Linked DNA regions of Homo sapiens: region 2 is linked to region 1. The links come from fine-mapping of genetic effects on gene expression. A gene starts in region 1. The other region holds a variant in brackets. All regions are shown on one strand. Distances are from middle to middle.

Region 1 (12,503 bases):
TATTGTGGCGCTTTTGTAGATCACTGAGAAGCTTATCTTATTAACCAATATACCACTTCCTAAATATCCATCTTTGGTGAAAGAAAATAGTGTGGTAAGAGTACCCATGATTATAGTTTTTTATCAGAATTTGATAAGATTTTCTGTTTCTGTGAAACAATTATTTTAAATATTTTTCTTTTAAAAATAACTTTTTATCAGTACAGAAAAACCTAAGGGATGACTAGCTTACAAATATTCTGTTAAGGGGTAGTTTTATAAAGAAAAATGATATATAGTTATGTTGTCTTTTATAGTGTTAAAATTAGTATTTATATGAAAGTCAAGATCTAAGTACCTTTTCATATAATTCAAACTGATTGCTTGTGATATGTTTTCTCTGGCTTTTTTATTTTTTCAACTTCAAGGTATTAACAGCTGTTAACACTTAAAAAGTACTGCCACATATGTAGCCTTGAAGTAGTTGATCTAATAAATGAGAGCAGGGAGGAGATTCATTGACTCTGAAATGATTTTTATTTTTCCTTTGGTATTTGCTACAGTGAAAAGAAGTTTGGAAAGTAGATACATAAAGACTTGAGAAGGGAATTGTTTAAGGGAAAAGAAAAGAGTAATAATTTTTTTTAAAACATTAAGGAATTGGAATTCAGAAAGGTTACCCCCTTCCTCTGTGTCTTTGTAAGGATACATTTGGAAGAACATACAGTATTCAGAAACTAACCTATATAAAATGTAAACAATATATTGATTGCACTATATAAATGAGTAAATTTTGAGAGGAACAATGTGGGAATGTATAAATTTGTCTAAAATTTTATAACTGTTGAACAAAGGGAAGATTTGAACAGTGTAAATTCCAGAGTTGAGAAAGCATTTAGCATGGTGGAAATGTGGAGAGCTTATTGGTGAGAGAGGATGGAGCTAAGAGAAATAAGATCAAATATTAAAATTAGGAATTTAGGCATTACCTCAGGGAAAAGCCTTGACAGTGAAAAGAAACTACTTAATCGCTAATAGCTAGTCTGGACCAGACACTTAACTGCGCTTTGGGAATCATCCTGGGCTAATCAGGAAATAAACTTGACTTTTCTATTTTTCTCTGAAGCTTTACAGGACATACTCCCACTCCCATTTTTTTCTAAGCCTACAGCATCTTGATTCATAGTATAATTCCTGAAGTATGCTGAATGGACTTTTTAAGGTTCCTTTAGCATTTTTGTATAGAGTTATATGTGATCTTTCTATAACCATGCCATTCACTTAAATAATTCATGAAGGGAATGGTTTAATTTAAAGGAAGACCTAATAGGAAGAAGATTAAAGGAAGCTTTTAGTCAGCCTGTGGCTAGATTTATTGATTTGGTGATCAAACCTGTGCTATTTCCTGAATTTCAGCTAATGGCCAACTGTGGTCAAAGAATGGCTTTCAGTTAAAGTTTTGACTTCTTATTATAAATAATATAAAGAATGTCTCAGTAATTAGAAATCCCTTAATAAGTAGAACAAATGTGGCAAGTAGGACTCCTATCGGTATACAAATTCCATTTCTTTTTATAAGAAAAACACATAAACCATTATCATTTATTCATGAGCCAAAGCCATTAAGAAGATAAATCCAGTTATCAGCTTCCTGTCTCTGAAGTTTGGATCATTTTATAGATCCACGCAATAGAGAGCTTCCTTCCTATGAAACAAAAACCTTGAGATCTCTTTTTTTTTGAGACAGAGTCTCGCTGTTGTCAGCCCAGGCTGGAGTGCAATGGCGCAATCTCGGTTCACTGCAACCTCTGCCTTCCAGGTTCCAGCAATTCTCCTACCTCAGCTCCCAAGTAGCTGAGATGACAGGCGTGTGCCACCACGCCCAGCTAATTTTTGTATTTTTAGTAGCGATGGTGTTTCACTACATTGGCCAGGCTGGTCTCGAACTCCTGACCTCAGGTGACCACCCGCCTCAGCCTCCCAAAGTGCTGGGATTACAGGCATGAGCCACTGTGCCCGGCCAAGATCTAACTCACGCTTACTTTTCATTAAAATATTTCTTGTCGCTTTTAGCTATTGTCAGAATCCAATAAACAGCTTACGCATTCATTTTGGTAAAGCAAATTTCACAGGAAAATAGACAAAATTATAAGAGATTCCTGGAGACAACACAAGGAAAACAATGTTTAAAAGCAAAATAGCCTGTGTAATGTTAGGTAATGTAATGCCCAAGTGAATAAAAGATTTTTCGTCAAGCAAACTACTGTTTCTACTTTGGGGGAAAAAAGTCAGTTTTACATTTGTAATTTAAGGAAAGAACAGAAAGCACAAAGGTTTTTCTTTTCTTTATTAATGGCCTACTAGAAATGAGCAGTGCAAGAGTCTACCTGTACTATTCTAATACAGTAAGATATTGGACACAAAATGGAGGTAACTTTTTAAAATAGATTGGCTTGGAAGTTGAAATGTAGATTAATGGATATAACCCAATAGAAAGGGATTTTCAAATAAAACCAAAGTCTATTTTTTTATTTACTTTCTAATTTTGAACAGATGACTCAGTCCTAAATCTTTGCCTTTATTTCCTATAAAATGTAGGTGATACTTGTAACTCGACTTCCTGGAGTTAATTCTTCAGCAAGAGGTGACCCTGGGAGCGTACTTTAAAATAATTGCTGTACAGCCATTGAGTACTAACATGATGATAGGTTTTCAAAATATCTTTGTAGTGGATGCTGCATAATTACATTCACTTCTCTTAGACTGTAAAAGACTTTCTTGACTTGTTTTAACAGTAGAGATAGCAGTACAATTTGAATTTATGGTTTAGGCTCTGCAATTAGAGGAACAATTGCAGTTTCCTCCTACCCTTCATATGGTCTGTGTAAAACTGATGTTTGCTTAACTTATTTTAAAAGTTGATTACGTTTTCAGAAAATAAAGATAATCACTTTTGCCATGGTTATAATCAAATCTAAGCTTTCAGACTTGAGAGCCATGGTGTAAAACTCAAGGAGGTTTATTTAAATTATGCTGACTTTGCTAGAATTGGATAAATTCTGTATAAGCCAAGTATGAGTTCACATGTACTCGAATATACAGTTTTCACAAAGCTATTACTCTCATCAGTCAGGCTTGTATGATCTATTCCTTACCACAAAAGAAGTAGACAATTGCCACTTTTATTTCTAATCCTTAAGTTGAATGTTTCTTCTTGGATGTAAGTTCAAATAAATTGATCTGGATAAATTTTCATTTCTACTTAATTAAAACTTCCTATGTAAAATCCAAAGGCTTTGTGTTTTATTTTAAAAACATAGTCTTTACTTCACACATTCAACTTAGAATCTGAAAAAGATAGAGAAACCCATATTCTTACATATTTTCTAATTTATAATACACTCCTTTTAGTTTTTTTGTGTTTGGGACTTCCAGAAGCAGGTGCCAAAATGTGATTAGAGGTGCAAGAGATTTATTTGGAGTGAAACACCTAGAAAGATAGAGAAGGGAGCAGAAGGTGGGGAATTCTTCATACCACACAGAAAGTCTGACACCTAGAAGGAAGGATTGGGTAGGGGAGCTTCGGACTTCAGTGCATCTTGAGACTGCTAGATGAGGACTTGGTTCCCAAGCAAAGGTTGCCTGTAGAGAAGCCCACAGGGACAGGAATGGCCTAGATCTAGACCCCTCCAACGTGCTCAGCTACTGGCTGATTGCAGGCAAGGAAAAGTTGGAGGCTATCCATTACTGGTACACAGCGCCAGGACTAGGGTATGGTGAGGCACTTAGGGACAAATATTTGACTATACGACTAAGGAAGACAATGTTTTGGTACAATATTGTAATATCTGAATTGATGCAAAAAAGCCTATGATGAGCAAGATACCAAATTTCAAATCAAACCTGACCAGATTACTGATTTCTTGTTGCTTCAGGTTTCAGCATGGCTCAAGGCACTGCTGATTCACTGTCACCAGTGAGAACAGGCTAGGTCCACACCAGTCGTGTAATTTTCCATAGGCCTGTGTGCCCTTACCCAAAAATAAGACTCTCGGCTTAGGTATTTGAAGTTCCTCTGTTGCCCCTTTTTCAGTGTGAGAATTGTGTGTGCTGTGGAAAACATCCAGGGATGTCTTCCTTTAAACAAGTTCATGGTTAAATGGCCACCCACTCACTCACTAATGCCTTACACAAAGCAAGATGCAAGTGTACCACATACTTTTAGGATATTTTTATATCTTAAAAAATGTATATTGGCCGGGCACAGTGGCTCACGCCTGTAATCCCAGCACTTTGCCGAGGAGGGCGGATCACAAGATCAAGAGATCGAGACCATCCTGGCCAACGTGGTGAAACCTCGTCTCTAAATACAAAAATTAGCTGGGCAAGGTAGCGCGCGCCTGTAGTTCCGGCTACTTGGGAGGCTGAGGCAGGAGAATCGCTTGAACCCGGGAGGCGGAGGTTGCAGTGAGCCGAGATCGCACCGCGCCACTGCACTCCAGCCTGGCGACAGAGCAAGACTCCGTCTCAAAAAAAAAAAAAAAGTATATTGCATATATGTATATATTTTGCACACCATATAATTATCACGACATCTTTATTGCTAGTTAGTAGGTTCCTTGACTGGGGTCATGTCATCTGTGCCTGACACAGGAGGTAATGTTTATTCAGAAATGAAGATGGCGGCTGGGCACGGTGGCTCACACCTGTAATACCAGCTCTTTGGGAGGCCGAAGCGGGCAGATCGCTTGAGGCTAGCAGGGTGAGACCCCATCTCTATCAAAAACACAAAAATAAGCCGGATGTGGTGGCACATGCCTGCAGTCTCAGCTACTCGGAGGCTAAGATGGGAGGATTGCTTGAGACCAGCAGGCAGAGGTTGCAGTGAGCCGAGATCGCGCCACTGCACTCCAGCGTGTGTGACAGAGGCCCTGTCTCAAAAACAACAAAAAAGAACATGGGAGAAGAGGCATTGATGAGGAAAAATCTACAAAGAAAGCAAATATCAATTTGTCAAGCTATTTGCAAACGTCTTCCCTTTCCTGTATTAATATTTTCCCTCTCCCCACTTTTGGCCCGAGGATCTGAGTCCTCGGGTCAGGCCGAAATCAGACCGCGTCCATACCCAGCCTCCTTCGAGGCCTAGCTGTAAAAACCGCTGAGCAAAAGGAATCCAGAATCAGCCCTCAAGCAACTCAAGACAAGTTAGCAATTTCCGCCGGGAAGCCGTGAACATCGGCAGCCACTGGCGTTTCCTCCGAGTCCTCGGAACTCCGGAAACTCTGGGAGCTTTTAGCCCGCCCACCAGGGGAAAGCGGCCCGGAGCCGGCGCCAGGTGGAGCCCATCCCCCTAGGCCTGGCGGGCCGCAGTACCGCCAGGGGCCTGCGGGAGGCGCACGCGGCGCGGCCTGAGGGGAGGGGGAGAACGGGCGGAGGCGGTGCGCTCGGCGCTTCCTGTTCCGGCGCCAGGAGGAGCCGCGCGCTGCTGGTGCTGTTGCCGCCGCTGCTCTAGCTGCCGTCAGTCAGGCTGCGCCCGCGTCTTCAGGGCCCAGTCCCTCGGACCCATCGCCGCTTCTAGACCCTACTGCGGTCTCGGATATTGCCGGGTGAGGCTGCTTCGGTACTAGTGGGAGTCGTGAAGGGGAATCGGGGAGCTGGGGTTGCGGAGCCCGCGGGCGCGGCCAAGCGGGAAGCGGGCGCGGTGACCGAGGTGCATCGAGTCACGTCCAGTGCTCGGGCCGTGGTCGCCTGCCTGGCACCAGGACTAAGCGTTTCTATCGGTCGCCTTCCTCCACGCTGCGGGCTGCCTGGGGATCGCCCCCCAGGGAGAAGGTGTCGGAGGCCGCTGACGTCGCGCCCGACGGGTTTCTGGGCGCCTGACGTCAGGTCTGGCTGCGGGGCGGGGCGGGCGCGGGCCGGCCCCTCCCCCACCCCTTCCCGGCGGGCGCGACCCGCTAGGAGGCCGGTTCGCTCCGGTTGATCCCGGACTCCCTTTGTTCGTGCGTCCCTAAACGGCTGCCGGCCTCGCGCCCCTTGGCCCCGATTTCCCCTCTACCCCCACCCTATTACACTCATTCATTAATTTTTAATAAAAAGGGAAAGGCCTGAAAAGATTCTTACAAGAGTCTCGGGCGCTTGTTAATCCGCAGTGTGACAACGTTCTGGTTATGACTTACTAGAGGAATTGCTCACGGATACATTAGATGAATACCCAGGGCAAACCACGAGAAGGGCAGAATTCAGTGATCTCCTTTTTTAGGACTGAGGAGCACATACCTGCGATAGCGTATGCATAGCTGGACCGTTTTCCTCTTTACCTTGAAAAGCAAGAGTACAGCTTTTAATAGGTAAAGATTCCAGTGTTAAAGCATGAAGCCAGGCTCACTCGACCGCAAGAATTTTTTTTAGTTTTACTACTAGAGAAATACACACCTGGGGGTTGTAAAGGTCTGTTTCGAAAAGGAACCCTCATTACAGGCAAAGGTAGCCTTCAGAAACATTTCATAAGTTCTTTGTTCACTGGTGTTCTTTGGGGGAAGAATAGAAATTTTTCATGCTGGCATCTCTGAGCCCACAATGCAAAGCGAGTTTGCTTCAGAAACTTGGAGTGAATTGCAAATATTGGAATGTTCTTTTCCTCACTCCAGGCGGAATGGGTAAAATCCATCCCCAGTCTCTTAACTGAAACTTTTGAAGCTAGTGTGTTTTGAATTCAAAAATACTTGGATTTTATCTTCATCTTTTTAGAAAGTCATGTTAGACGAGAGATAACACCCCCAGCAGAGTGGGGCACCCCATAATCCAACATTAATATTTGCAGCAATAGATGTGAACATTCATTCTAAGTGGGGGCGAATAGAAACTATAAATAGCTTCAGGTCACATTTTGCCACCATGTAAGTTTTGTGCCAAACTAGGGCAGATAAAGATTTATGGACCTAAAAGTAGGCATCATAAAAGCTAATATTTGTTGAGGTTTTGCTATATTCCAGGCAGCGACTAAGAGATTTGTTTATTAAAAGTTTTACAGCAAATCTATGATGTGGGTACGATTCCGATCTTCCTTTGCCTCAAGTTTGGAGAGTTGGACTTGTCAACTCTGGCCGAACCAACCAGTGAAGAGCTGCAGTTATAGCTAGATAATCATACTTTAACGTTTACTTTTTTACCTATAAGCTAGATGTCCACATACAAAGAAAAGAGAATTTGGTATTTGTTTTCCACCCAAGCACTATTTTTTTAGGCACTTGATTGGACAGAGTCCCATTTAGTTCCTCGCAACATTACTGGCCTGGTTTTTATTTGTTTTGTTTTTTAAACTGCGTGCTTTTTACAAATAGTATGGCCTGTTCTTTATAGTTCGGGTTCATTCAGATGAGCCGACTTTTAGTGAAATAATTCAAACCCTCGTCTAAGGTCACTCTGCTAAGACTTTAATACAACCCTTCCCTTTCTCGCTATATTCTAACCCATCTGAACTGCTTATACCTCCCCAGAGATTCTCCCAGTTTTTACACTAACTGCTCTTCTTTCCCTAGGGCCCATTTCACCGCCCTCTACTCCCGGCTCTTTCCTTATGGTCCTTATGGACTGCAAAAGACAGCACATCTCAGGAATCTCCATGTAATACTATAATTTCTCTAAAGGCCAACACATTGTTTGGCATATATGTTCCAATAAGTATATAACTAAATGCCAAGAAATATTGCAGGTTGCATATCCTTTATCCCAAATGCTTGGGACCAGAAGTGTTTCAGATTTTGGATTTTTTTTACATTACACCAGTTGAGCATCCAAAATCCAGAATGCTCTAATGAGCATTTCCTTTGAGCGGCATGGTGGCACTCAAAAAGATTCAGATTTTTGAGCATTTCAAAACCCCCGTTTTTGAGTTGCCCAAATGTAAAAAATGGAACATAAGCAGATAAATGAGCCAATACTAAAAACTAGCATGTATTCTAATTTATAATTTATATTTTCTTTTTTTTTTTTTTTTTTGGAGACGGAGTCGCTTACTGTAAGCTCCGCCTCCCAGGTTCCAGCGATTCTCCTGCCTCAGCCTATCGAAGCGAAGTAGCTGGGATTACAGGTGCCTTCCACCACGCCCAGCTAATTTTCTGTATTTTTAGTTGAGATAGGGTTTTACCATTGGCCAGGCTGGTCTTGAATTCCTGGCCTCAAGTAATCCACCCACCTCGGCCTCCCAAAGTGCTGCGATTACAGGCTTGAGCCGCCGCACCCGGCCATTAATTTATATTTTCAGTACGATACATATCATCCCCCCATACTAAACAAATCAACCCAAAAATTTTGATTTCGCTTAATTTCGCCTAACAAATATCTAACATGTATATAGCACTTTATAGATTAAGTGTGTTACTATTTTCTGTGCAGTGGGCAGGAATTATAACTTCTACAGATGGAAAATGGTCTCTTATTGAGAAGTTTTTTGTCAAAAGATAACCGTCAAAAGGATTCATGTCCGGGTTTCATCACTGTGTAGTCCCATACTGTTTATCACTCCATCACAATTTGAAGGCTGTCTGAAATATCCATGAACTCCACTGGTAATTCATGGAGTTCAACTCTCTTAACCACCCTCCTCCCTGACCCATGATTTTTACCCTAACAGCCATGAGAGTTTCCAAAAATGTTATGTTTTACTTTTCTAGTGTATGTCAAAAGACATTTTGTACTGTTTTAAAATTACTATTCTTGCTATTCAAAGAATAAAAAGTATTGTTTTTCAGATGATGGGTGGATCATGCTATAAAATGGTAACAAAGTTTTGGAAATAATAGCTTTAGATTATTCCAAAAAGAAAAAAAAGAAAGCCTTTCTTGAGTATAAATTGTTTTTATGAGTTCAAGGTTACATTGGCCTCATCTTAATAATTAGCGATGATTCAGATATTTTGGAATAGCTTTATATTTTTATTTATTTTTCTTTTTGAGACAGAGTGCCACTAATATTGCCCAGGCTGGTCTCTTAACTACTGGCCTCAAGCGGTCTTCCCACCTCAGCCTCCTGAGAAGCTGGGATTACAGGTGCACACTACCAAGCGCGGCTTAGAATAGCTTTTTAGAAAACCTAAACTTTTTATGTTCTGCAACTCTCCTCATATTGAAACGTTCATGTCCAACTGTTTTTCACCTTTTCTAATGAAAGTATTCTCCAAAGAACAAATTGGAATGCTTCCAATTATAGTTGTTCCCCCTTATCCTAGGGGGACACATTGCAAGACTCCCCAATGAATCCCTGAAACTGAAGTCTGTATACACTGCCGAAGCCTAAGTATACCATGTTTTTTAGATCTAATAACCAAGATGGGCTGATAGCGTATACAGCATGGATACACTGGACAAAGGGATGATTCACGTCCTAGGCAGGAGGGGGCAAACTTTCATTTTGCTACTCAGAACATGCTCTTGCCCCATTTAAAACTTAGGAATTGGCCAGGTGCAGTGGTTCATGCCTAATCCCAGCACTTTGGGAGACTGAGGTGGGCGGATTACTTGAGGCCAGGAGTTTGAGACCAGCCTGGCCAACATGGTGAAACCCCGTCTCTACCAAAAATTAAAAATTAGCCGGGCGTGGTGGCACGTGCCTATAATCCCAGCTACTTGAGAGGCTCAGGTAGGAGAATCACTTAAACCTGGGAGGCGGAGGTTGCAGTGAGTCAAGATCACACTACTGCACTTTAGCCTGGGTGGCAGAGCGAGACTCCATCTCAAAAACAAAACAAAAAACTTACGAATTATTTATTTCTGGAATTTTTCATTTAATATGTTCGGACCTTAGGTAATTAAAACCACAGATAAGGGGGGATCACCCTAACATGAACGCTGTTTATTCTAGGAATGGAGAGCTGGTCACTTTACTAAGACAGTGCCGTAGAACAGAACTTGTTACTAATTCCTATGCTTAGGGCTTTGTTTTTTAATCACAAGATTCTAGCACCTCCCCTATCTTCCAGACTTGGATTTTGAACTTTAAAATTTTGAAGTAGTGTTGTGAATCAGTTGAATATTATTAACTTGTAGAATAATTTATGTAATTCCATGACTAGGTAACTGTATAATTCTGAAAACCTGAACAGTCAAGGCCATTTGGTTCACTTTGATTCTCAACTCCAGAATTAATATGAACTTTGATACAGAATCATTTTCTATTTCAGAAAGGCTAACCCTGTTTAAAAAGCATGTTAGCCTTACAACTTACCGTATATTTTCTACACTGTTAGTCCTAAAAATTTTATTGTGTGATGTGATTGACGTTAAACCTTAACATGGGAATGGGTTGTATGTGGGTTTTTTTGTTTTTTTGTTTTTGAGACGGAGTTTGCACTGTCACCCAGGCTGGAGTGCAGTGGCTTGATCTCAGCTCACTGCAAGCTCCGCCTCCTGGGTTCGCGCCATTCTCTTGCCTCAGCCTCCTGAGTAGCTGGGACTACAGGTGCCCACCATTATGCCTGGCTAATTTTTTGTATTTTTAGTAGAGACGGGGTTTCACCTTGTTAGCCAGGATGGTCTCAATCTCCTGACTTCGTGATCCGCCCTCCTCGGCCTCCCAAAGTGCTGGGATTACAGGCGTGAGCCACCGCGCCCGGCCATGTTTTTTGATATTCTGAATAAAAAGGATATAGCAGTTGGGATAGGCTTGGGTTCTTGTCCTTTATGTTCTTGTCCTTTCCTCATGATAATCAAATCATAATTAGAAATAAGATGCTAAGAATACAAAGGTGGCTCTATGTTAATACTGTATTGATAGGTCAAAGGAGAAAAAGCATGAGATCAATTCATTAGATACTGAAAAGTCTTTTGAGGGAATTTAATGTCTTCTTGCTTTCTTTATTAACAGAATAGGAATAAATAATAGCATAGGCATAAATTAAAAATAATGTAATTTTTTAAAATCTCAAACTAAAAATGGGAATCATACTTAAACATTAGCATTCCCAGGAGAGTTGGAGCAAGACCTCTGTGCCCACTATCACTCAACATTTCATTATTTAAGTCCTAGCAAGTGCAAAACAGAAAAGATGCATAAATATTAGAGAAGGAAAGTTATTTTTTGCAAATGGCGTATTTTTTATCTGGAAATACCAGAGAATCAAGTGAGAAACTTTGAAGAATAAAATAATTCAGTAATGATGCTTCCTACCCTAGGTTAATTAATATAAAGAAGAGTTAAATTCCTATGGCATATTTCTGGTAACAAAAACATCACTAAACTTTTAAATAAAACCCAAAACACTTCTAGTATTAAACATTTAAATGAGCTGGGCGCAGTGGCTCACGCCTGTAATCCCAGCACTTTGGGAGGCCAAGGTGGGCGGATCACAAGGTCAAGAGATGGAGACCATCCTGGACAACATGGTGAAACCCCGTCTCTACTAAAAATACAAAAATTAGTGGGTGTAGTGGCCCGCACCTGTAGTCCCAGCTACTCAGGAGACTGAGGCACGAGAATCGCTTAAACTGAGGAGGCGGAGGTTACAGTGAACCAAGATCGCGCCACTGCACTCCAGTCTGGCGACAGAGCGAGACTCCATCTCAAAAAAAAAAAAAAATTTAAATGATTTCTACTAAAAATTTTAAAAATTAGCATGCCTATGGTCCCAGCTACTCAAAGGCTAAGGTGGGAGGATCCACTTGAGCCTGGGAGGTGGAGGTTGCAGTGAGCTGTGATCACACCACTGCACTCCAGCCTCGGTGACAGAGCAAGACCCTGTCTCAAAAAAAAATTGAATGAATGTGAGCTGTGTATACATTTAAGAAAGATTAATAAAAAGATAATTATTTGCCTCCCTCTTCCAGTTCAGGGTCTCAATGGCTGGAGCCTTTCTTGGCAATTCAGAGTCCAAGTTGGGAACCAGCCCTGAACTGGACGCCATCCCAGCACAGGGTGCTCTCACCTACACCCACGCTCACAGACTGGGCCGCGTAGACACATCCATTCATGTGCATCTTTGGGATATGGGAGGAAACTGGAGTACTTGGAGAAGACCCATAAAGATGGGAGAATGAGCCAGCTTCACACAGACAGTGACCTCAGCTGAGACTTTTTGTTTTTTCTTCTCATCAACATTATAACAAAACAAAGTTGAATGAAACGTCTTTCGAGGACCTGCTATAGACTAAAATTTTAAAACCCTGTCCCATATATGAACGAACAATTAGAAAATACAGTAGAAGAAAAGAGCCTATTTACAACCACAGGGAAAAGTTTAACAGAAATCCCTTAAAAGAAATGTATATAGGAGATCTGATCAAGAAAATAAACTACATGAAAAGGACAGGAACTAAACAGTCCTCTGTGTCTGCATTTGCGGGTAGAAAATATTCAGGGAGCCGGGTGCGGTGGCTCATGCCTGTAATCCCAGCACTTTGGGAGGCTGAGGCGGGCGGATCACGTGAGGCCAGGAGTTCAAGAGCAGCCTGGCCAACGTGGTGAAACCCTGTCTCTATTAAAAATACAAAAAATTAGCCGGGCATGGCGGCGCTTGCCTATAATCCCAGTTA
Region 2 (12,503 bases), 23 kb after region 1:
CAATTCTGGGCTTCTCTGAGCAAGTCCAGAGCCTAATTAACTGTAAATTTGTTGTCAAAAAGGAAGAAAAAAGGGCCTGAGATACCTCTTTGCATGTGACCTGCATTCACTAAGGATATCTGGAAACCACCCTTCCTCCGCAAACCCTCTCAGCAACATGGTGTCCATTGTGGTGATTTTCTCTTCTTTTAAGGCTAGGCTACTCTTGGTAACCAGATTATCCGTATATATGATAATATGAAGTCAGGGAACTTTCTCTGTCTGTCCCTACTCCCCTCACTCCCCCACTTTCTGTTATGAAAGATAGTTCTACTTTTATCATTAACTGCTACGCATTTAGTGAGGGTCACATTATTAAACTTGGAGTTTACCATTTTCCCACAGGAGATTTCGCTGGCATTCCTTGGAACTCCCAATTTCAGTAGGGCAATGAATGAATGAATACTTTGCAGTGCTACTTTTGGAAGGAATTTCTGCTTTTTGCCTTATGATTGGACAAAATGCAGCTGTAAAATTTTAAATTGTTTTTGATATGTTATTCAATATCCCATGAAAGTATTCACCTAAAGTGGAGTTATGAAATGGATGGTGAAATAATAAGACCATTCTGGAGCAGGGCCAGTTTCTTTTTTTCCTGTTGTGAGATGACATTGCTCTGACAAACATGCTATCGTGGGTTACCTGACCCAGGCAAGTCCTTTTTTATCACCGTATTAATACTCTTAGCACCAATCCTTTTGCAACTGATCTCCAAAGCAAAATAGAATTCTAAATCTTAGCTCACTTATTTTAAATAAGGCATGCAATAGAATTCGAGTGCCAGGAGAGGATTTGGGTCATCTCATAGAGCTTATTCCTGTGGCTTTTACTTATTTTTGGGACAGTCTCACTCTGTCGCCCAGGCTGGAGTGCAGTGATGCAATCTCTGCTCACTGCAACCTCCGCCTCCCGAGTTCAAGCGATTCTCCTGCCTCAGCCTCCCAAGTGGTTGGAATTACAGGTGCACACCACCAGTCCTAGCTAGTTTTTGTATTTTTACTAGAAATGGGGTTTTGCCATGTTGACCAGGCTGGTCTCAAACTCCTGACCTCAGGTGATTCGCCTGCCTCAGCCTCCCAAAGTGCTGGGATTACAGGCTTGAGCCACCATGCCTGGCCCTCGTGGCACTTAAACTTTTTTCTCTCATTTGGGAAAATTGATTTTCCCAGTGCTGAGGAGAGGACCAAGTAGAGCTTATAACGCTTAGTCTCTCCCTGCTTTCCCTAGAGCAGTTCCACTCTGCACTTCGTGTATTTTCCTTACTGATAAGTTGCTTCAGGAAGGGGACAGATTTGCTGCTTTTAAATTTTAAAAAACTACCATTATAAATGACCATGTCTGCTACTTGAGGTTTATTTAGATCATAGTCAGAGGTTCCCAAGTGTAATAGAATTGGGTCATATGGGATTCTAAGCCATACTTAGTTTTACGTAAGAAAAGAGGAAATAGAACATTTTAAGTTTTGCTCTGATTATGTTTTATGTCAGAGCTTGTCGTTTTATTTAATGGTCATATAGTCTAGCTTTCCTTAAAGATACGTAGATTTAAAAGCCACTTTAGAGATAAGGAAACCAAGTTTAAAAGAGATACGCAGTGACTCATGCCTGTGTAATCCCAACACTTTGAAAGGCCAGGGCAGGAGGATCATTTGAAGCCAGGAGTTTGAGACCAGCCTGGACAACATAGCAAGACCCCATCTCCACAAGCCAAAATTGAAGAATTAGCCAGGTGTGGTGGCATGTGCCTCTAGTCCCAGCTACTCAGGAGGCCAAGGTGGCAGGATCACTTGAGCCCCGGAGTTAGAGGCTACACTGCACTCCAGCCTGGACGACAGAGCAAGATCCTGTTTAGAGGTTAAATTCCCAGAGTCATACCACATAAATAATGAACCAGTGCTTCTGTTATCAAGGCTTAGAGTTTATCCACTAGGTTCTATTTTTTTTGTTCAGGCATCTAGTACTGCAGTTCTTCCAAAACTATCTGGACAATCAAATCTATCTAAATTGAATGTTATGTAGCAGACCTCTCACACTTCATTTAGTGAGTTTCATCGGATATTCAGTTAAAAAAAAAAAAAAAAGCTAATGGTTATGTTTGAAATGCATGGTTTTGTGAATAATCACAGTTCTTCAAGTGCTAACCTAGAACTTGAGTTGTGTTTTCATAAAGGCAAATGTTCAAAGGTATAGCAGTTAAGAGTGGGTTTAAAATGTGAATGAGAGAATTAAGGTAGTGGATGATCAAACCACTAGTTCCAGGTCCAGCCTTTGCAGTTACCAGTCATTGGAGACATGGATATCCAGCTACCCTGCAGTGGCACACACTAGGCCAAGGCTGTCAGAGCAGCTGAGACAGAAGAGGTCTCTGTTAGCAGTGGATGGGCAGCCAAGATGTACAGGAACTGCACAGAGTGTGGAAGAGTCAGAGTGAGGTTCTGCCAAGCACGGCATGACAGTTCTTTTTTTAAACGTGCCAATGCAGGACATGCTAAGTTAAAATATCTTAACTGTTGCTTAGTTACTGCAACACACAAAAACCCCAAGTACTAAGCTTAATGAATCACCTGCGTCCTTTCTTGAATGCTCAAATCTACAAAAAGACTAAACTGCATGACTAACGATTAGGACTCTTACTTGGGCTTTTTATAGAAGTGGAATGAAGAGGACTTGTGCGAACTAGGAAAAGCAGCTTCCCAGCATAAGATTTCTCGTCTGAAAGGGGTAATAAGTCTCCACCTTCGATGCCTCTGTGATCAAATTCTAAAGGGCAGCCCTTCATGGTTCAGCGAGCAACACAATTGCTGGGGATTCACAGGGCAGAGTTGGTATTTTTATTTTTTACTTTTCTTTTTAAATCAGTGTTGGGTCACGAATTTGTTTTTTAGGGTTTTTATTTTAAGCTTTGAGCTCAGCTCTGGTGTGTGATTTACGGCAACTGATTAGCTTCCTGTGCTCACTTCCCTTACCTATAAACATAATAATGCTCAAAGTACCATGAGGGAAAAAACATTCTTCATTCCCTCTAGCTAGAGATCCACTAGGTATGTTAGCATACCCCAAACAATGCACATCTAATATAGTAGCTCTATATGAATATTCCTTTTTTAAAAATCAGATTATCACCCAGGCGTGGTGGCTCATGCCTATAATCCCAGCTACTTGGGAGGCTGAGGTGGGAGGATCACATGAGCCCAAGAAGCAGACGTAGCAGTGAGCCATGATGGCACCACGCCTGAGTGACAGAGTAAGACCCTGTCTCAAAAAAATAAAAATTAGGTGATCAACATTAAGGATTAAATGTTACACAATGTGATTAGCTCTTACCTCACATGCCGGGGGGAGCAGGGAGTACACAATGTGATCCTAATATTTATTAACCACCAACCTTGTGCTCTAAGCAAGTGGTTATATGTCCCAGTTGGATATATGGCCTGGAATCATTCTGGTTCCTGTTTGCCAGGTATAATTTTTTTTTTTTTTTTTTTTTTGAGACAGAGTTTTGCTTTTTCCCTCCAGGCTGAAATGCAATGGCATGATCTCGGCTCACTGCAACCTCCGCCTCCTGGGTTCAAGCGATTCTCCTGCCTCAGCCTCCCAAGTAGCTGGGATTACAAGTGCCCACCACCACACCCAGCTGGTTTTTGTATTTTTAGTAGAGACAGGGTTTCACCATGTTGGCCAGGCTGGTCTCGAACTCCTGACCTCAGGTGATCCACCCACCTTGGCCTCCCAAAGTGCTGGGACTACAGGCGTGAGCCACCACGCCCAGACTCCAGGTATAATTATTAAAGCACCTCCCTTGCATCCACAAAAGTGTCCTGGTGTTTGTGATAAGTCACATGGTTGTCCTAAATATAACAAAAAAAGAGTACCAGTGAAGATTTTATTTCCTCAGAGAAAAAACTTGTCCTAAAAAACATGTTTTACTGTAGAAGTTACCCCTTCATTCACATACAGTCGGCCGCTTGTATCTGTGGGTTCTGCATCTGGGGATTCAACCAACCTCAGGTGGAAAATATTTCGAAGGAAAACAACAATAAATAATACAAAATGTAAAATACAATATAGCAACTATGTGCTAGCATTTACATTGTATTAGGTATTCTAAGTAATCTAGATATGATTTAAAGTATAAGGGAGGATGTGCGTAGTTTACAGGCAAATACGACACCATTTAATATCAGCAACCCAAGCATCTGTGGATTTTGGTATCCCAGGAGGGTCCTGGAACCAATCCCCTGTGGATACTGAGAGATGACTATATTATTTAGGGTGCTACTCAGACTGCATCTTATAAAGGTGAAGAACCATATCCAAGTCACTGAATTGTAGCTACATTATCTTCAGTAAGTCCCAACGGCAAGAAGCAAGCACGTCCCAGTCTTGGAACAGGGAGTCATGTCTTCTAAGATAGAGGAGCTAGATAGAGAAAGAGGGTTGGAACAGGGCTTTCTACTTTTCTGGGCACCTCTCCAAAGGTTTCTGCCACATAGCCACAATTATGTCTTTTTCCCTCCCAAGTCAGAAAGCAATTTCCCTTAAAGCCCTAAGTTTTTCCCCCAACTTAATCCCCTTACAAACTGAGTAGTACCAAAAATTATGTCCATTTTATTGTATTTTAGAGATGGGGTCTTGCTATGTTTCCCAGGCTTGTCTTGAACTCCTGGGTTCAAGCAATCCTCCTGCCTCGGCCTCCCAAAGTTCTGGGATTACAGGCAGGAGCCACCGCGCCTGGCTTATGTCCAATTTTGGAGGGTCTCTGGCTGCTGCATATAAATATTACCAAATATGTAATAGAATTACATTTCATTTCCTCCAACCCTGGGGTGACATACACGTTTTGTTTCTAATTCACAGTAAAGAGGGACTAGGGGACAGTGAAATTATTATTTCATACGATACTTGAATGGCAGGGAAATAGCAAAAACTTGTTAAATCATTTCAGAAATATCTAGTGGCCGGGTAAGAGTTGTCAACTTTTTGGTGCTTGAGGTGCATTTTTGAATACTAGAACTTGTGGCTCTCCTGTAAGGATTAAATGCTTCAGGTGTTACCACACTAGTATTCATCAGGGTGTTTGAGGAGAGCATCTGCTGCCATGGCCGAGTTCTCTCACATAGTTACACAGCAAAGTTCTTACGTGTTGCAGGAAACAATCTATCTGTGGCCCTGGCTTCATGTTACAGTCACCTCTTCACTCCTGCTGTTTGCATCTGCTCTTCCCCATCTGCAGCACCGGTCATCTTAACATTCTGGCAGTCACTGCCACAGAAGTACATGTCCCCAATTTGTGGCAAAATTTTGCACATCCACAATTTAAAGACACGTGTTCTCAGCACACTATTATGCTGCAGCACTGTGGTTGTAAAGT[T/C]AGAATAGAAAGCAGCTCACTGACAGTATCAGTTCACGTTGAAAATGAAACTTCAAAATACAAGTTTGAATATTCTTTTGCTGCTAGCACCTTTTATAACACAAAGTACTTAGGAATCACATCTGATATACAGTAGTCATCAGAAAAATTATCGCTTTCAAACAGCTAATACTTTATAATGAAAAGCATGTTAGAATTGCCGGGGGAGGAGTGGGAGAAGGACGCAGTGGGGAGAGGATAGATTCTGGATATATATACACACACACACATATATACACACACACACATATATATATACACACACACAAACACACACTTTTTTTTTTTTTTTTTTTTTTTTGAGATAGAGTCTTGCCCTGTCGCCCAGGCTGGAGTGCTGTGGCACAATCACGGCTTACTGCAGGCTTGACCTCCCCTCAAGCAATCCTCCCACCTCAGCCTCTCTGGTACCTGGGACTACAGGCATGCACCACTAGGCCCAGCTGATTTTTTTTGTAGAGATGGGTTTTCAGCATGTGGCCCAGGCTGGTCTCAAACTCCTGGGCTCAAGCAATCCACCCACCTCGGCCTCCCAAAGTGCTGGGATATTGCAGGCATGAGCCACCGCGCTTAGCCTGAGATTCTGGTAATATTCTATTGAGTTGAGTGGGATGGTGGCTATACATGAGTATTCATTTGACTTATTTAACTCCAAATATATGTCATTCTCTTGCATATATAATTTACATGTTTTTAAAAGCATATGGGACCTGAGAACCTAATATTGAAAGAAAACTCCAGTTTCACTCAGACTGTCTTTGAGAGAGGCAGACAAGCCTAACTTCAGTGGTGACTGATGTCTGAGGCATGTAACAGTAGCACGAGGCTGTGCCTAGCATCCATGGTTTCCTTTTATGCTGATAACTGAAAATCTCAATTACTTTAGGAAACAGGGCTGTCATTTAGAACACAAGAGCATAAAAGGGTCTTCCCAGTAGTCCACTCAGTCTAGTGTCCTGTCTGACAATGGCATCCAGAAATGTTTTTGTGAAAGAGCATAACTGGGTCATAAACCCAGCATGCCAGACCCAGCTCTGCACCAATGGGGAGGCAATTGTCAAGCATTCAATTGTGTAAAGCATTATGTTGAGCCAGTACAACAAGAATCGCAGAATAAAGATAGCCCCACAAATACGGAAGACAATAGGGATGGTATTTTTCACTGTGCTATTAGGGAGAAAAATGAGAAAAACATAATTAGAGTGAGGACAGAGGCAGCGTAGTATAGAGGTAGAGAGCAGGCTGGGCGTGGTGTCTCACGCCTGTAATCCCAGCATTTTGGGAGGCTGAGGTGGGAGGATCACTTGAGGTCAGGAGTTTGAGACCAGCCTGGCCAACGTGGTGAAACCTCATCTCTACTAAAAATACAAAAATTAGCTGGGCGTGGTGGTGCGTGCCTGTAGCGCCAGCTACTTGGGAGGCTGAGACAGAAGAATTGCTTGAACCTGGGAGGCGGAGGTTGCAGTGAGCCGAGATAGTGCTACTGCACTCCAGCCTGGGCGACACAGCGAGACTCCATCTCAAAAAAAAAAAAAAAAAAAAAAACAAAAGAAAACAAACAAACAAACAAAAACAGAGGTAAAGAGCACAGGTTCTGGAACCTGGCCAGCTGTGTTTAAATCGTGACTCCACTGCTTACTACATAGATCACACTGGCTGAATTACTTAACCTTGTAGTGCCTTTGCTTATTCAGCTATAAAATGAGGGCCGGGCGTGGTGGCTCACGCCTGTAATCCCAGCACTTTGGGAGGCCGAGGCGGGCGGATCACCTGAGGTTAGGAGTTTGAGACCAGTCTGGCCAACGGGGTTTCAACCCCATCTCTGCTAAAAAATATAAAAATTAGCTAGGCGTGGTGGTGGGCACCTGTAATCCCAGCTACTCGGGAGGCTGAGGCGGGAGAATCACTTAAACCCAGGAGGTGGAGGTTGCAGTGAGCCACGATCACGCCATTGCACTCCAGCCTGGGCAACAAAAATGAAACTCCACACAAAAAAATAAAAAATAAAATAAAATGAGGATTACACTCATGCCTAACTCCACAGGGTTACGAGAATTAAATGAAGTCATCCATGTGAAGCAGTTGGCACCTGACATCAGATGTGAGCTTATCATGGGAGCTGAAAGGCATTTTTCTAGGTATTGGGCCTACAAGAGTGTTACAGTTTAGCAGAAGAAACAGAAAAATAGGCAGGTGTGATGTTACTGATGCAGGAGGCACGGATTGCTCTGAGTACACCCGAGGAGCACCTAATAGTGAAACAGCTACCATTTGTTGAACACTAGTGATGTCTCAGACAGTCACCCACATGCTTTGTTTTCTGTTTTCTCCCTTAGCAATGCCCTATAAGCCCCGCCCCTTACCCAAGGCCTTTACTCACACTCACTGTGTCCTCACAACAACATAAGCAAGGGGTAAAAATTCACAGCCTGTGGAGTGCAGAGCCATGCTCTTTCCCCTTTATCACGCAGGGCACCATTAATATTTTAAGGCACTTCAGAAAAAGACCTGTCTCGGAGAAAGAGAGTCCAAAAGAACATCTGTCTCCTCACCTCACGCTACTTTGCACCTGGCCATATTTCCAAATCAATTCCACACCCTGTTTGAAAGCAGCTCACCTTGGGGATGGATTAGAAAAATCGCAAGCCCCAGGCCTGGGTATGTGAGTGAGTTTCGGCAACAGATGAAGGGCAGGCAGGCGCCCCGTCTGGGGAGGAAGTCCAGTGTCACAATTGTACCTCTGAGTAGCTGTGTTCCCAACATTCCAGAGAACAGCTCCACCCTGGAACAGCTTTCATGAGTTATCCGCACTGACGTCAGCCACATACCTGTGAACACGACTTGCTTCTTGGCTGCCCACAGCTGCACTATTCCTTCTTGCTGGGTTTTGGGAGTACACATGAGCTATTCATTACAGAGTTTCAGGCCCACTAGCAACTCTGAATACCTCATATTCTAAAAGAGCACGGCTTTTCCCAGCTCATTTGGGATTACATGAGAGATTAGCCTGTGTCCACGAAGGCCAACAACTACTCTGACTGGGGAATCGGCAAGAGAAGGCTTCCTGGAATGAGTCTCGAGGGATTTGAGCTTTGGACAAAGGAGTTGATAAGATTTTGTCCTAGGACAAAGAAAGATAGAACAGGCCTAAGATAAATGAGCAAAGATATTTTAGCACCTAGGTTTTAGTCGTTCAACTTACTGGTATGTATGTATTTATTACTTATTTTTATTTATTTTTTTGAGACGGAGTCTCACTTTGTCACCCAGGCTGGAGTGCAGTGGCACAAGCTTAGCTCATTGCAACCTTTGCCTCCCGGATTCAAGCAATTCTCCTGCCTCAGCCTCCCGAGTAGCTGGGATTACACAGGCACCTGCCACCACACCTGGCTAATTTTTGTATTTGTAGTAGAGATGGGGTTTCACTCCATGTTGGCCAGGCTGGTCTCAAACCCCTGACCTCAGGTGATCTGCCCGCCTCAGCCTCCCAAAGTGTTGGGATTACAGGTGGGAGCCACTGCGCCTGGCCTATTTATTTTTTATTTATTTATTTTATTTTATTAGATGGAGTCTCGCTCTGTCGCCAGGCTGGAGTGCAGTGGTGCAATCTCAGCTCACTGCAACCTCCACCTCCCGGGTTCAAGCAGTTCTCCTGCCTCAGCCTCCTGAGTAGCTGGGACTACAGGTGCGTACCACCATGCCCAGCTAATTTTTGTATTTTTAGTAGAGATGGGGTTTCACCATGTTGGCCAGGATGGTCTCGATCTCTTGACCTCATAATCCGCCTGCCTCAGCCTCCCAAAGTGCTGGGATTACAGGTGTGAGCCACTGTGCCCGGCCTATTTATTTTATTATTATTATTTCTGGGGGACAAGGTCTTGCCCTGTCACCCAGGCTGGAGTGCAGTGGCTCGATCATAGCTCACTGCAGCCTCAAACTCCCTGGCTCAAGCGATACTCCCTCCCACCTCAGCCTCCTGAGTAGCTAGGGCTACTGGTGTGAGCAACTAACTGGTATTTTTTTACTACTTACTCTGTGCCACATCCTGGAAATTCAATACTGAACAAGTTAAATGGTTTCTGCCCTTGTGTAGTTTACAAGCTAGTGGAAGAGACAATCACTAAATAATATAAATTACATTTGTAATGAGCGATGGGGAAATAATGTGTAACAGTATTCTGGAGTCAAGGAAAGCTCACCAGAGGAAATGACATTTGAGCTGAAATTTGACAGCTGAGCAGGATTCAGGCTGGAGATATGCTTAGGGAAGGGTGCAAGAAGAGACTGCAAAAAGGGCAAGGGGGAGAGACAATCCTGTATGCAGGATGGTATGGGTCAGGAGCAGCAATACCTGCCTATATGTTGATAGTGTTGGGGCCAGAGGATGTGAAACGGAGCATGATAGGGTAGAAGACCTATGATTGGCTCTGTTTCTGTCCCTATATTCTGTCTACTAGATTAAGTTAGCTGTTCTCCCATCTACAATACAGAGAGCTCCAATAAACTCAGTTTTAAGTTTTAGGATCCCTTGGCTCTCCAGGCTAACCATATGAGGGAGACGCTTCGCACGGAGATTTGGGTTTCCTGGTGTTCTATTAGGCATATTTTTCCAGCCAGGTGGAAGAGGAAGTCTTTCTGGGTTTTTTTTTGTTTTTCTTTTTGTTTTTTTGAGACAGAGTTTCGCTCTTGTCACCCAGGCTGGAGTGCAATGGTGCGATCTCAGCTCACTACAACCTCCGCCTCCCGAGTTCAAGTGATTCTTCTGCCTCAGCCTCCCGAGTAGCTGGGATTACAGGCATGTGCCTCCACATCCGGCTACTTTTTGTATTTTTAGTAGAGACAGGGTTTCACCATGTTGGCTAGGCTGGTCTCGAACTCCTGACCTCAGGTGATCCACCCACCTCAGCCTCCCAAAGTGCTGGGATTACAAGCTTGAGCCACCACGCCTTGCCTGAAGTCTCCTTTTTATGAACCTAATATCTTTCAACGTGCCTAATATTTGTCAAAGAATTAGTCTCAGCACTGTGCTGTTTAGGGGATGGGACATTATTCCTGTATTTACTCAAAAGGAGAAATTAGAAAAACCCTTGATTGCATAATTTAGTCAGCTCATACCCCAAGTCACTTCAATTTCCCTATCTTGCTTCTTGTTATTGTTTTTAAAAATAGGCTGGGCGCAGTGGCTCACGCCTGTAATCCTAGCACTTTGGGAGGCTGAGGTGGGCAGATTGCCTGAGCTCAGGAGTTCGAGATCAGCCTGGGCAACATGGTGAAACCCTGTCTCTACTAAAATACAAAAAATTAGTCAGGCATGGTGGCGTGTGCCTGTAGTCCCAGCAACTCGGGAGGCTGAGGCAGGAGAATTGCTTGAACCTGGGAGGCGGAGGTTGCAGTGAGCCAAGATCACACCACTGCATTCCAGCCTGGGTGACAGAGTGAGACCAAAAAAAGCAAAAAACAAAAAACAAAAAAACAAACCAGAAAAGTGGGATGTTTATACTTTATAAAAGGTACCCGGAGGAATTTCAGTTCAGCTGTTCAGTCTATGGCTGCTGTAGTAAACAGCTATACTTCCAAGGCCTTGCACAGAGCAATCCCCAAGGCAACATTTCCCAAGGTGTATTTTATACAACACCAATTTCTAGAGCTGCACCTTGAGTAAAGGGTTCCATGGATCAGTAAGTTTGAGGACACTGAATGTGAAATCCATTCATGAAGAAGTACCACCACATTAGTACATTAAGGGGCTAGCAAGTCCTATAGTAAAAAAAAACAAAAACAACAAAAAACCAGTATTTCCCAAGTACTTAATCACAGGAAATTTTTGTTTGAATAACTGCTTATTTCTATGGCAGGACTACCAGAGATTATTGCTCATTTTTATTTTAATTTTTTTTGAGACAAAGTCTCACTCTGTCGCCTAGGCTGGAGTGCAGTGGAGCAATCTCGGCTCACTGTAACCTCCGCCTCCCGGGCTTGGGTGATCCTCCCACCTCAGCTTCCCAAGTAGCTGGGACCGCAAGTGTGTGCCACCATGTCCAGCTAATTTTTGTATTTTTAGTAGAGATGGGTTTTTGTCATGTTGCCCAGGCTAGTCTCAAACTCTTGGGCTCAAGCAATCTTCCTGCCTCGGCCTCCCAAAGTGCTGGGATTACAGGTCCCACCCTGCTTATTTTTTATTTAACATTTATTCAGCATTGTGTACAAAGTAAGTGTGGTGTCATGCAGAAATGAATTACAGAGGGGAAGGGTTTAATATGCATTTGATATATAGTTTCAAAATATTCAATTATTTTATAGAAGAAATGGGATGAACTCATAAGATATCAAGTATAAATCAGTAATTGGCATCTAGAAAATGTGTGGGTTAAACATAGATGAAAAAAGCTGGGAGAACCAAGAGTACACGTGGTAATAAACATACATAAGGGGGACCTGGGCACTAAATAGTGATACATTAAATACCAATATTCACAAGTCTTTAATATGGTCACCCATTGGTGATATCTAGCCTGGCTTCATGTGTTCTCTGCCCAAGTAATGAAAATCCATGGCTGTTCAACAGACTAATGACAAGCTACAATTTTGGCCAATTGCTTCTCTCCAATAGAGCAAATATGTACCATTGACCCAGAACCTCCTCCTTCCCTTGCTTGAACCTCACCACTGGCCTGGAAGTTCCTCATAAGGTTAAACATAAAGTTACTGTATGACCAGCAATTCTACTCCTAGGGATATACACCCAAGAAAAATGAAAATATATGTCCACACAAACACCTGTGCACAAATGTTGATAGCAGCATTGTCCATAACAGCCAAAAAGTAGAAACAACCTAAATGTCCATCAACTGATGGATAAACAAAATGTGGTATTCCCATCAATGGAATATTATTCAGCCATAAATGGACATGAAATTCTGATACATGCTATAACTTGATGCACCTTGAAAACATTATGCTAAGTGAAAGAAACCAGTCACAAAAGGCTGCATATACTGTGATTCTATGTATATAAAATATTCAGAATAGTCAAATCTATAGAGGTGGGTTGGTGG

Evidence for each region. PIP is the estimated chance that this variant, and not a neighbour inherited with it, causes the effect.
Region 2: its variant is the best candidate, but not a certain one, in a credible set for the expression of MAPK1IP1L in blood mononuclear cells (TOPMed, PIP 0.59).

What each region holds. Positions count from the first base shown.
Region 1 is chr14:55,046,219-55,058,721 of GRCh38, forward strand. MAPK1IP1L (mitogen-activated protein kinase 1 interacting protein 1 like) reads left to right here and starts at 5,429. Exons shown (of 4, transcript NM_144578.4): 1 at 5,429-5,585. SOCS4 (suppressor of cytokine signaling 4) reads left to right here. Exons shown (of 3, transcript NM_199421.2): 3 at 1-3,271. RefSeq lists enhancers at 4,791-5,480, 5,020-5,219 and silencers at 5,250-5,489, 5,840-5,999.
Region 2 is chr14:55,069,578-55,082,080 of GRCh38, forward strand. MAPK1IP1L (mitogen-activated protein kinase 1 interacting protein 1 like) reads left to right here. Exons shown (of 4, transcript NM_144578.4): 4 at 1-617. Among named protein-coding and RNA genes, the nearest start is that of MAPK1IP1L, 24 kb to the left of the region's middle. RefSeq lists enhancers at 2,637-2,756, 5,015-5,144, 7,688-8,887, 7,806-8,305, 8,328-8,829 and 1 more. The variant T/C (reference allele first, on the strand shown) is at 5,410.